Regions from separate parts of the Homo sapiens genome. Here region 2 is linked to region 1. The links come from fine-mapping of genetic effects on gene expression. A gene starts in region 1. The other region holds a variant in brackets. All regions are shown on one strand. Distances are between the middles of the regions.

Region 1 (5,261 bases):
GGCGAGATCTTGGCTCACTGCAACCTCTGCCTCCTGGGTTCAAGAGATTCTCCTGCCTCGGTCTCCTGAGTAGCTGGGATTACAGGCGCCTGCCACTACGCCTGGCTAATTTTTGTATTTTTAGTAGAGATGGAGTTTCACCATGTTGACCAGGCTGGTCTTGAACTTTTGACCTCAGGTGATCCACCCTCCTCGGCCTCCCAAAGTGCTGGGATTACAGGCCTGAGCCACCACGCCCAGCCCATTTCATTCCTTTTTAAGGCTGAATAACATTCTGTTGTATGTATCTTCCACATTTTGTTTATCCATTCATTCACTGATGGACATTTGGGTTCTTTCCACCGTTTGGCTATTGTGAGTATGCTGCTATGAACATGGGTATACAAATATCTGTTAAAGTCCCTGCTTTCAATTCTTTTGGATATGTACCCAGAAGTAGAATTGCTGGATCACATAGTAATTCTATATTTAATTTTTTGAGGAACCTTCAACAGGGTTTTGATTTATTAGAAACAGGGTCTCCCTCTGTCACTGAGGCTGGGGTGCAGTAGTGCCATCATAGCTCACTGCAGCCTCAAACTCCTGGGCTCAAATGATCCTCCTGCCTTAGCAGGGTTATAATGTTTAATTTTTTTAGTATTTAATTTTCTTTTTTTTTTTTTTTGAGATGGAGTCTTGCTCTGTCGCCCAGGCTGGAGTGCAGTGGCCCAATCTCGGCTCACTGCAAGCTCCGCCTCCCGGGTTCATGCCATTCTCCTGCCTCAGCCTCCAAGTAGCTGGGACTACAGGCGCCTGCCACCACGCCTGGCTAATTTTTTTGTATTTTTAGTAGAGATGGGGTTTCACCGTGTTACCCAGGATGGTTTAAATCTCCTGACCTCGTGATCCGCCCAACTTGCCTCCCAAAGTGCTGGGATTATGGGCGTGAGCCACAGCGCCTGGCTCAGTCTTTACTTTTCATAACAGAAAACGTACCCTCTGCTTTTTATGGGGGTCTAACCATCTGAGTGCAGCTTGAGCTCAAGTGCTAAAGTCCATATTCAGGTTGGTCAGCAGCAGCAGTCTTGCTTGGAACCAAGAGATGGACCACCTGAATAGCATGACCTGGGTCAACGAGACAGAGCCTTAGGCCCAGAAATCTTTCCTGCTGTCAGGATAAATTAGTTTGTTTCACAAAGGGACTCTTGAAGATCAGAATTTCTGTATCTGTAAGACTTCTATGACTTAAAGAATTTCTGTACGTGTGAAATTATACTATTAGAAATACAAGATTGAAGAGTCTCCTTGTAAAAGCTAGTGTTAATGGCTAATAATCTAGCCAGGATTTAGAGATCAGGGAAAATGGGATTGAACTGTGTGGGCAAAGGAGATTAAGTAGCAGTGGAGGAGCTGAAAGGGGAATGGAAAAGTCGACGGACAGCTTCTACTTTACCATCTGTTTTATCAGCCTGGTAATCTGACGCCTGCCAGAACTATGTGGTCATGTGTTCCCTGCTTTGCCTCTTTCTCAGGATTTATAAACCCTTGTGGTGGGAGAATATGGAGCTGCATATATCTAGAGGGTTTTTTTATTTTTATCTTTTGAGACTGCACTTCACTCTTGCTGCCCAGGCTGGAGTGCAATGGCCTGATCTTGGCTCACTGCAACCTCTGCTTCCTGGGTCCAAGCGATTCTCCTGCCTCAGCCTCCCGAGTAGCTGGGATTACAGGCATGCGCCACCAGGCCCAGGTGATTTTCTTTTTAAATTTTCTATTTTTAGTAGAGATGGGGTTTCACCATGTTGGTCAGGCTGGTCTCTAACTCCTGACCTCAGGTGATCCGCCACCTCAGCCTCCCAAAGCGCTGAAATTGCAGGCGTGAGCCATCGCGCCTGGCTGAGGTTTATTTTTCAAAGAATGACCAAGAGGCTAGGTGTGGTGGCTCACAGTTGCAAATCCCAGCACTTTGGGAGGCCAAGGCGGACACATCACTTGAGGTCAGGAGTTTGAGAACAGCCTGTCCAACATGGTGAAACCCCATCTCTACTAAAAGTACAATTAGTGGGGCATGGTGGTGTGGCCTGTAATGGGAGGCTGAGACAGGAGAATTGCTTGAACCTGGGAGGCACAGGTTGCAGTGAGCCGAGATCGCACCACTGCACTCCAGCCTAGGCAACTGAGTGAGACTGTCTCAAAAAAGAAAAAAGACCAAAAACTCCATGAAACTACCATTCAATAAATAATCAATAAATAAGATGCAATTTCTCAAAGCTCAGTTTACAAAGAAGGAAATTTAATAAATGGTTGAAGATATACCCCCGACTGAACCCACAAGTTCTCTGAGTAGACTCATGGAATTCTAAAGAGTTGGTTGCTTGGAGACTGATAGAAACAGCTTTGGAACCTAAGAAACCAAGGAAGGCTTAAGATGCAGAACCTTGCTTCTCTCTGAGGACTGCCTTTTAGGAGGCCATTTGGAAAGTAATTTTGAAACACTGCTCCTTTGCCAGTATCTGAAAGGTGCTGGATGGTGTCAGCTGGAAGATGAGGGGCAACCTGAGGTAGCTGAAAAAACTTTGGATTAGGTGTCAAAAGGGTCAGTACTACTTTAGATACCAAGCAGTATGGTGATCTTAATGATTTCTCTTCTCTCTGGGCCCCAGTTTTGGGATTTATAAAATCAGGACATTAGGCCTGGTGCAGTGGCTCATGCCTGTATTCCCAGCATTTTGGGAGGCCAAGGTGGGAGGACTGTTTGAGTCCAGGAGTTCAAGACCAGCCTGAGCAACATAGTGAGACTCTATCTCTACAAAAAAAAAAAAAAAAAAAAAAATTTAACCGAGAGTGGTGTGCTATGTGCCTATGCTCCCAGCTATGTGGGAGGATTGCTTGAGCCCAGGAGGTCAAGGCTGCAGTGAGTCATGATCACGCCACTGTACTCCAGGAGAGTGAGACCCTGTCTCAAAAAAAAAAAAACAAATCAAGGCATTAGACCAGGTCATCTTTATAGCAGAGTTTCCAGAGTAATCTCTGGAGATAGCTGTATAGCTGTGTGAGTGCATGGTAAAAAATTAGAAAGTAGAGGGGAAAAAATGAGGGGAACTTTTTGAGGGCAAAAAGGGAGAAAGGGGGACTTGAAACAAGCCAGGTTAAGCAGCTGTTCCCTAATCCCACTCTCCCCACTAACCAGGCTTCCTTCATACACCCCACTGACACCCTTTGGGCTGTGCTTTCTTTAAATGTATTGTGTATTAAACCTGAGAGCTTGTGAAAATGCAGATTTCTAGGCCTCACTTGCAGGCTACTGAATCAGCATTCTGGGAGTAGGACACAAGAGTCTGATGTAAAAGGTTCTTTACCCATATCTATTCCAGGCATAGTCCCAGCATTTCTGGAGGCCAAGGCAGGAAGATCACTTGATTCCAGGAGTTTGAAACCAGCCTGGACAACATAGTAAGACCCTGTCTCTACAAAAAAAAGTTTTAAAACATTAGCCAGGCATGGTGGTGCACACCTGTGGTCCCAGCTACTGGGGACGCTGAGGCAGGAGGATTGCTTGAGCCTGGGAGGCAAGGCTGCAGTGAGCCATGACTGTGCCACCGCACTCCAGCTTGGGTGACAGAGTGAGGCCCTGTCTCAAACATAAATAAATAAACAAAAAACTGTATCTAACAAACACCACCCCAGAAGCTGACTGCACACTCTTGGACTCCACCTCAGAACTTCAGAATCCAAATCTGTTGGTAGAGATGAGAGTATTATTTTTTTAAAGCTTTCAGAAGATACTGATACTAAGGCTTATTGCTTTTTAGTCTTTTCTTTCAAGGCAGTTTCCTCTATTTTAATAACAAGGGAGAATGCAAGATATTACTCCTTTTAGCACATGTTACTCAACCTACTTTGACCACTTGTACAGGATAAAGGTATCAGACCAGAGGGTGAGGGTAAGCGACTGATAAGCAAACAGAAAAGTGGAACTAAATTTGGAATCTCTGAGATACTACCCAGTTTGAGTTGAGTTCTGTATTCATAAAATATTAGAGGCAGGAGAGGAATTTAGTCCAACTCCTACGTTTTCCAGCTGGGGATCTAGGAAGTTCATCAGGTTTTAACTAGAGGCATGTGGCCTAACCCTTCCAACCCCATTCCTCCCCTTCTAGCCCAAGTTCCTAGAAATGCAGATAATGCTGGTGGGTTGCTCATTCCAGGGCCTGGTCTGCAGTTATGCCAGGATTGACTTAGTCAATTTTTTATGCTGTCTATGTACAAAAGGACCCCGGACCTGCCACTCTGCTTTTGGTTCTAGAGGGCTATTTGTTGGGAGTGGGGTGCTGCCTCATAATGCTGGTCACGTAATGTGTAAGTTTCGATAATAAGGAGCCTCCAAACTCCATTAATAAGTCCTTTCTTTCTTCTCTAAGCACCCTCTCTTTTAATTGCTGAGTACCCCATAGCCCTAAATTCTTCCCGAAGCGCCCAGTGCATCTAACTGTAGGACCCAGAGACTTGCCTTCTAAGGACAACAGTCCATCCTCTAAACTAATAATAACAATTCCTCACACATATATTTTAGTTTGCAAAGAACTTTCATACGTTTCTAATTTTGAGGTTCATATCAATCAACACTAAATTAGAACAGGTATCAGACTCAATTTTCAGATTGGGAAACTACAGATTTCAAATTATTTGCCCAAGGTAACATGACTGGGAAGTGCACAATTTGGCCTTACACCTGTCCCGTGACTCCAAGACAGACAAAGACAAGCCAGAACAAGCCTCTTTTGATCAGACCTTGTGTAACATTTTGTTCTGTCCCCATTCCTTTTCAAAACAGACCTATCATGTGTTCCCTTCCTTCTTAATAAGCCATCATATCGGATGATAATAACTATTCCTTAAGTTTTTTTTGTTTTTTTTTTTTGAGAAGAAGTTTCACTCTTGTCACCCAGCCTGGAGTGCACTGGTGTGATCTTGGCTCACTGCAACCTCCGCCTCCTGGGTTCAAGCGATTCTCCTGCCTCAGCCTCCTGAGTAGCTGGGATTACGGGTGCCTGCCACCATGCCTGGCTAATTTTTTGTATTTTTAGTAGAGATGGGGTTTCGCCATGTTGGCCATGCTGCTCTTGAACTGCTGACCTCTGGTGATCTGCCTGCCTCAGCCTCCCAAAGTGTTGGGATTACAGGCGTGAGCCACCGCACCCAGCCTCCTTAAGAATTTCTAATAATTGATAATGGTAATATGGTATTCTTTCTGGGATGTTTGCATTGTAACTAAAGATTCT
Region 2 (5,494 bases), 32 kb after region 1:
CTGGCTAATTTTTTGTATTTTTAGTAGAGACGGAGTTTCACCATGTTGGTCAAGCTGGTCTTGAACTCCTAACCTCAGATGATCCACACGCCTCAGCCTCCCAAAGTGCTGGGATTACACGCATGATCCACCACGCCTGGCCGATTGACTTAATTTTTTATGCTGTGTACAAAAGGACCCAGGACCTGCCACTCTGCTTTTGGTTCTAGAGGGCTATTTGTTGGAAGTGGGTGCTGCCTCATAATGCTGGTCACGTAATGTGTAAGTTTCAATAATAAGGAGCCTCCAAACTCCATTAATAAGTCCTTTCTTCCTTCTCTAAGCACCCTCTCTTTTAATTGCTGAGTACCCCATAGCCCTAAATTCTTCCCGAAGCGCTCAGTGCATCTAACTGTAGGACCCAGAGACTTGCCTTCTAAGGACAACAGTCCATCCTCTAAACTAATAATAACAATTCCTCACACATATATTTTAGTTTGCAAAGAACTTTCATACATGTTTCTGATTTTGAGCTTCATATCAATCAACACTAAATTAGAACAGGTATCAGACTCAATTTTCAGATTGGGAAACTACAGATTTTAAATTATTTGCCCAAGGTAACATGACTGGGAAGTGCACAATTTGGCCTTACACCTGTCCCGTGACTCCAAGGCAGACAAAGACAAGCCAGAACAAGCCTCTTTTGATCAGACCTAGTAATATTTTGTTCTGTCCCCATTCCTTTTCAAAACAGACCTATCATGTGTTCCCTTCCTTCTTAATAAGCCATCATATCAGATAATAACTATTCCTTAAGTTTTTTTTTTTTTTTTTTTTTTGAGATGAAGTTTCGCTCTTGTCGTCCAGGCTGGAGTCCAGTGGCGCGATCTTGGCTCACTGCAACCTCCGCCTCCCAGCTTCAAGCGATTCTGCCTCAGCCTCCTGAGTAGCTGGGATTACGGATGCCCACCACCACACCCGCTAATTTTTTGTATTTTTAGTAGAGATGGGGCTTCGCCATGTTGGCCAGACTGATTTCAAACTCCTGACCTCAGGTGATCTGCCCACCTCAGCCTCCCAAAGTGTTGGGATTACAGGCATGAGCCACCGCGCATAGCCTCCTTAAGAATTTCTAATAATTGATAATGGTAATATGGTATTCTTTCTGGGATGTTTGCATTGTAACTAAAGATTCTTTACGTCACAGGCTAAAGGGCATTTATCTGGGGACATCCTAAATCACTCCTTTTTTTTTTTTTTTTTTTTTTTTGAGATGGAGTTTTGCCCCTGTTACCCAGGCTGGAGTACGGTGGCAACCTCTGCCTGTCAGGTTCAAGGAACTCTCCTGCCTCAGCCTCCCAAGTAGCTGGGATTACAGGCACCTGCCACCATGACTGGCTAATTTTTTGTATTTGTAGTAGAGATGGGGTTTCGCCATGTTGGCCGGGCTGGTCTCGAACCCCTGATCTCAGGTGATCCACCTGCCTTGGCCTCCCAAAGTGCTAGGATTACAGGCATGAGCCATCCTGCCTGGCCCTGACTGTGTATTTTCATATAACCTGTCTTCAAGCTCACCAATTCTTTCTTCTGCTTGACCAATTCTGCTGTTGAGAGACTCCAATGCATTTTTTAGTCAACTTAATTTTTCAGCTCTAGAAGTGATGCTTGATTTTTTTTCTTTTGCGAAGTGAAAGCAAGTTTATTAGAGAAGTAAAGAAACAAAAGAATGGCTACTCCATAGGCAGAGCAGCCTTTCTGCTTGATTTTTGTTATTTCAATCTCTTTTTGAAATTTCTGATAGAATTCTGAATTTCTTCTCGGTGTTATCTCGAAGTTTGAGCTTCTTCAAGACTACTATTTTGAATTCCCTGTCTGGAAAGGTCACATATCTCTGTCACTCCTGGATTGGTCACTGGTGCCTTATTTAGTCCATTTGGTGAAATAATGTTTTCCTGGATGTTCTTGATGCTTGTGGATGGTCATCAATGTCTGGACATTGAAGAGTTAGGTATTTATTCCAAGTCTTTACAGTCTGGACTTATTTGTACCCATCCTCCTTGAGAAGGCTTTCTATATATTCAAAGGGGATTAAGTGCTGTGACTTAAGCCTACGGTCTCTGCAGCTGATGTATACCAGGGGGTGCCCTAAGCCTATGACCCCTGCAACTGTTGCCAACTCCTGGATACTCCTGTATCTTTGGTGGCCTTGGGTAAGATAAGGGAAAATTCCCCGGTTACCCAGGCAACATCTCTCACTTTGTCTCTTCTCTTTCCCCCAGTCAGGAATCTCTCTCCCCACTGGGCTGTCTGGAGTTGGGGGGAAGGGTGACATGAGCACTCCCATGGCCACCACAGATGGCAGTGCACTGGGTCACACCTGAAGCTTTGCAGACCAGTACAGTATTGGATCCTGCCCAAGGCCTGTGGCCAGAACTGCTTAGCTACCACTGATATTTACTCAAAGCCCAAGGGCACTTTAGTCAGCAGGTGGGGAATCCTGCCAGGATAAATCTGACCCATCAGAGCAGTGGATTCCCTTCTGGCGCAGGGTAGGTCTGGAAATGTAGCTTAGGAGCAAAGGCCTGGAATCAGGAGCCTCAGGATTCTGCCTGGTGCTTTATTTTCCTGTGGCTGAGCTGCTACTCAAAGTCTTCTGGACTTTGTCTTGCAACTTGAGTACTCTTCCCTCTCCTTTCCCCAAGTAGGAGTCTCTCCCTGAGCTGCCCTGTCTGGAGTTGGGGGAGGAATGATGCAGGCACTCCCTTGTTCACCACAGTTGGTGTCACACGCGGTCACACACACCCAAAGTCCACTGCCTCCATGACCAGTGCATCTCCAGGGTTTGCCTAAGGAATATAGTCCTTGTGACCTGACTGTCACTCATATGTATTCAGGGCCCCAGGCCACTTTGGTCAGC[T/C]GGTGGCAGAACCAGCTGGGACTCAGGTCTGTCCCACTCTACCTGAGGATTCTCCTCTGGCCCAGAGCTGATCTAAATGTGTCCTCTGTGGGTGCCAGCAGAATTCTGCTCAGTGTAGTGCTGTGCTGTGACAGGGCAGCAGTGAGTTCCAATGCAAAATCCCACACTCCTCTCGCTCCACCACATGCACAGATTCTCTCTCCAAGCTGTTGTGCCAGAGGTGAGGGAGGGGGGCATAGGCGATGCAGGACCGTCTTTCCCACCCTCTTCAGTGCCTCTTCTTGATACGATGTGAAAACCAGGTACTGTGATCACTCACCTGATTTTTTGTTTCTTATGAAGATGCTTTTTTTTTTTTTTTAAATAAGGAGTCTCACTCTGTCACCCAGGCTGGAGCGCAGTGGCACCATTTCGTCTCACTGCAACCTCTGCTTCCCAGGTTCAAGCAATTCTTCTGCCTCAGCCTCCCAAGTAGCTGGGATTATAGGCCCCCACCACCACGCCCAGCTAATTTTTGTATTTTTAGTAGAGATGGGGTTTCTCCATGTTGGCCAGGCCAGTCTTGAACTCTTGACTTCAAGTGATTTGCCCAATTTAGCCTCCCAAAGTTCTGGGATTACTGACGTGAGCCACCGCATCCGGCCTAAAGGTGCTTTCCTTGTGGGGACAGTTGTTCAGTTTGGTGTTCCTGCATGGAGACAATCGCTGGAGGGGTCTGTTTGGCCGTCTTGCTCTAGCCTTTCTATTTTCAGCCAGTGGGAGTAGCCACTGTTTCAGGAGAAAACATCATCTTGTGACCACCCTCTTTCTCTTAACTTGCCTTCATGAAGACGTTGCCTTCATGGTTGTGAAGAGATGAAGCAATTACATTTAGCCTTATGTGCAAAAAGTCCTGGAGTGATAGCATATTAATCATGTGTCACGTAATTTGAGGGAGGTTATTGATTCTGGCCTAATGGCATCTAGATGAAAGTTGAGCCTTTGCTGAGTGCTGTAGCTCACACCTGTAATCCCAACGCTTTGAGAAGCCAAGGCAGGCAGATTGTTGACCCCAGGAGTTTGAGACCAGCCTGGGCAACATAGTGAGACCCCATCTCTATTAAAAATAAAAAACAGATAGCTGGGTGTGGTGGCGCATGCACCTGTAGTCCCAGCTACTTGGGAGGCTGAAGTAGGAGGATTACTTGGGCCCAGGAGGTTGAGGCTGCAGTGAGCTATGATCGTGCCAGTGCTGCACTCCAGCCTGGGCGACAGAACAAGACCCTGTCTCAAAAAAACAAAACAAAAGAAAAAAAACACACAAAAAAGAACTTGCCCTTAACAGAAAGAAATACAATACGGTCACTTTTACACATGGAAGACAGTAAGAGAAATCATGCCCTAGGGAGAGAGGCTATGTGCTGGGTGTTAAGGAGTAAAGAGAAACAAGTCAGATCTGGTCTGCATGGGCACCTTGGACACCGGGCAGGAGTTGACACTAGCAGGATAGAAACATATGGAATAATGGTCTCTCCTTCATCCTTACACATAAGGAGGCCTACCTGTTCCTTGGAGAGGCAAGGCCAACAAAGTGAGTGGTAGGGAGTGGTGCTTGGGCCAAGGCCAGTGTGGCACGGAGGTTAAGTGCTCCAGAGTTGTGATCTAGTAGGCTAGATTTGAAACCTGACTCCTCTGCTTACGGGCTATGTGATCTGAAGCAATTTACCTACCTCTCTGAACCTCAGCTTCTTAAAATAGGAAAGGAAGATCATAATATCTTCCCTACGTAAAATCCTCAGCAAGGTTATTCCAAAACTATCATTATTAGGCCAAGGGAATGCTTCAAAAGGAAAACAAAACAAAACTAAACTAACATTAAATCTAAGCATTTGTTATCTACAGTGTTTGCCATGCTAGCTAAAATCTGGAAACAACCCATCCAATAATTCATGAAGAGTCAAAACCATTTACCTATTTGATAAAATACGTTACAGCTATAATATATATATATATATATATATATATTTTTTTTTTTTTTTTTTGAGACGGAGTTTTGCTCTTGTTGCCCAGGCTGGTGTGCAATGGCATGATCTTGGCTCACTGCAATCTCCCCCACCCTGGGTTCAAGCAATTCTCCTGCCTCAATCTCCCAAGTAGCTGGGATTACAGGCACATGCCACCGCGCCTGGCTAATTTTTTGTATTTTTAGTAGAGATGGGATTTCACCATGTTGGCCAGGCTGGTCTCAAACTCCAGACCTCAGGTGACCCACCCACCTCGGCCTCCCAAAGTGCTGGGATTACAGGCGTGAGCCACTGCGCCCGGCCTACAGCTATTAAATATTTTAACAATAAAAACTATGTAGCAATAGGTGTGCTGGATGACTCTGAAAGACAGAAGAAATGGGAGACATGGTCACTGGGCAATGGAATTAGAGTCTCAAATATTTAACAATGCGAGGTATCATAGGATTAACAGTTAAAGTAAGTGGTACAGACCAGGAGGAATTTATAAACTTGGGTATGACCTGGTGGCCTGGATAGGTCAAGAAAGAGTTATGGAGCAGCACAAATTGAGCTGGGCCTGGAAATTGGATAGAATTTGTGTCAAGTACGA

Evidence for each region. PIP is the estimated chance that this variant, and not a neighbour inherited with it, causes the effect. A credible set is the group of variants that fine-mapping cannot tell apart.
Region 2: its variant is the best candidate, but not a certain one, in a credible set for the expression of HEATR4 in testis (GTEx, PIP 0.66).

Annotation. Positions count from the first base shown.
Region 1 is chr14:73,556,065-73,561,325 of GRCh38, reverse strand. HEATR4 (HEAT repeat containing 4) reads left to right here and starts at 2,379. Exons shown (of 18, transcript NM_001220484.1): 1 at 2,379-2,575. RefSeq lists an enhancer at 1,378-1,547.
Region 2 is chr14:73,523,720-73,529,213 of GRCh38, reverse strand. All of the region lies in intron 2 of HEATR4 (HEAT repeat containing 4), which reads left to right. It also overlaps a transcript of ACOT1 not described here. Among named protein-coding and RNA genes, the nearest start is that of ACOT1, 11 kb to the left of the region's middle. The variant T/C (reference allele first, on the strand shown) is at 2,900.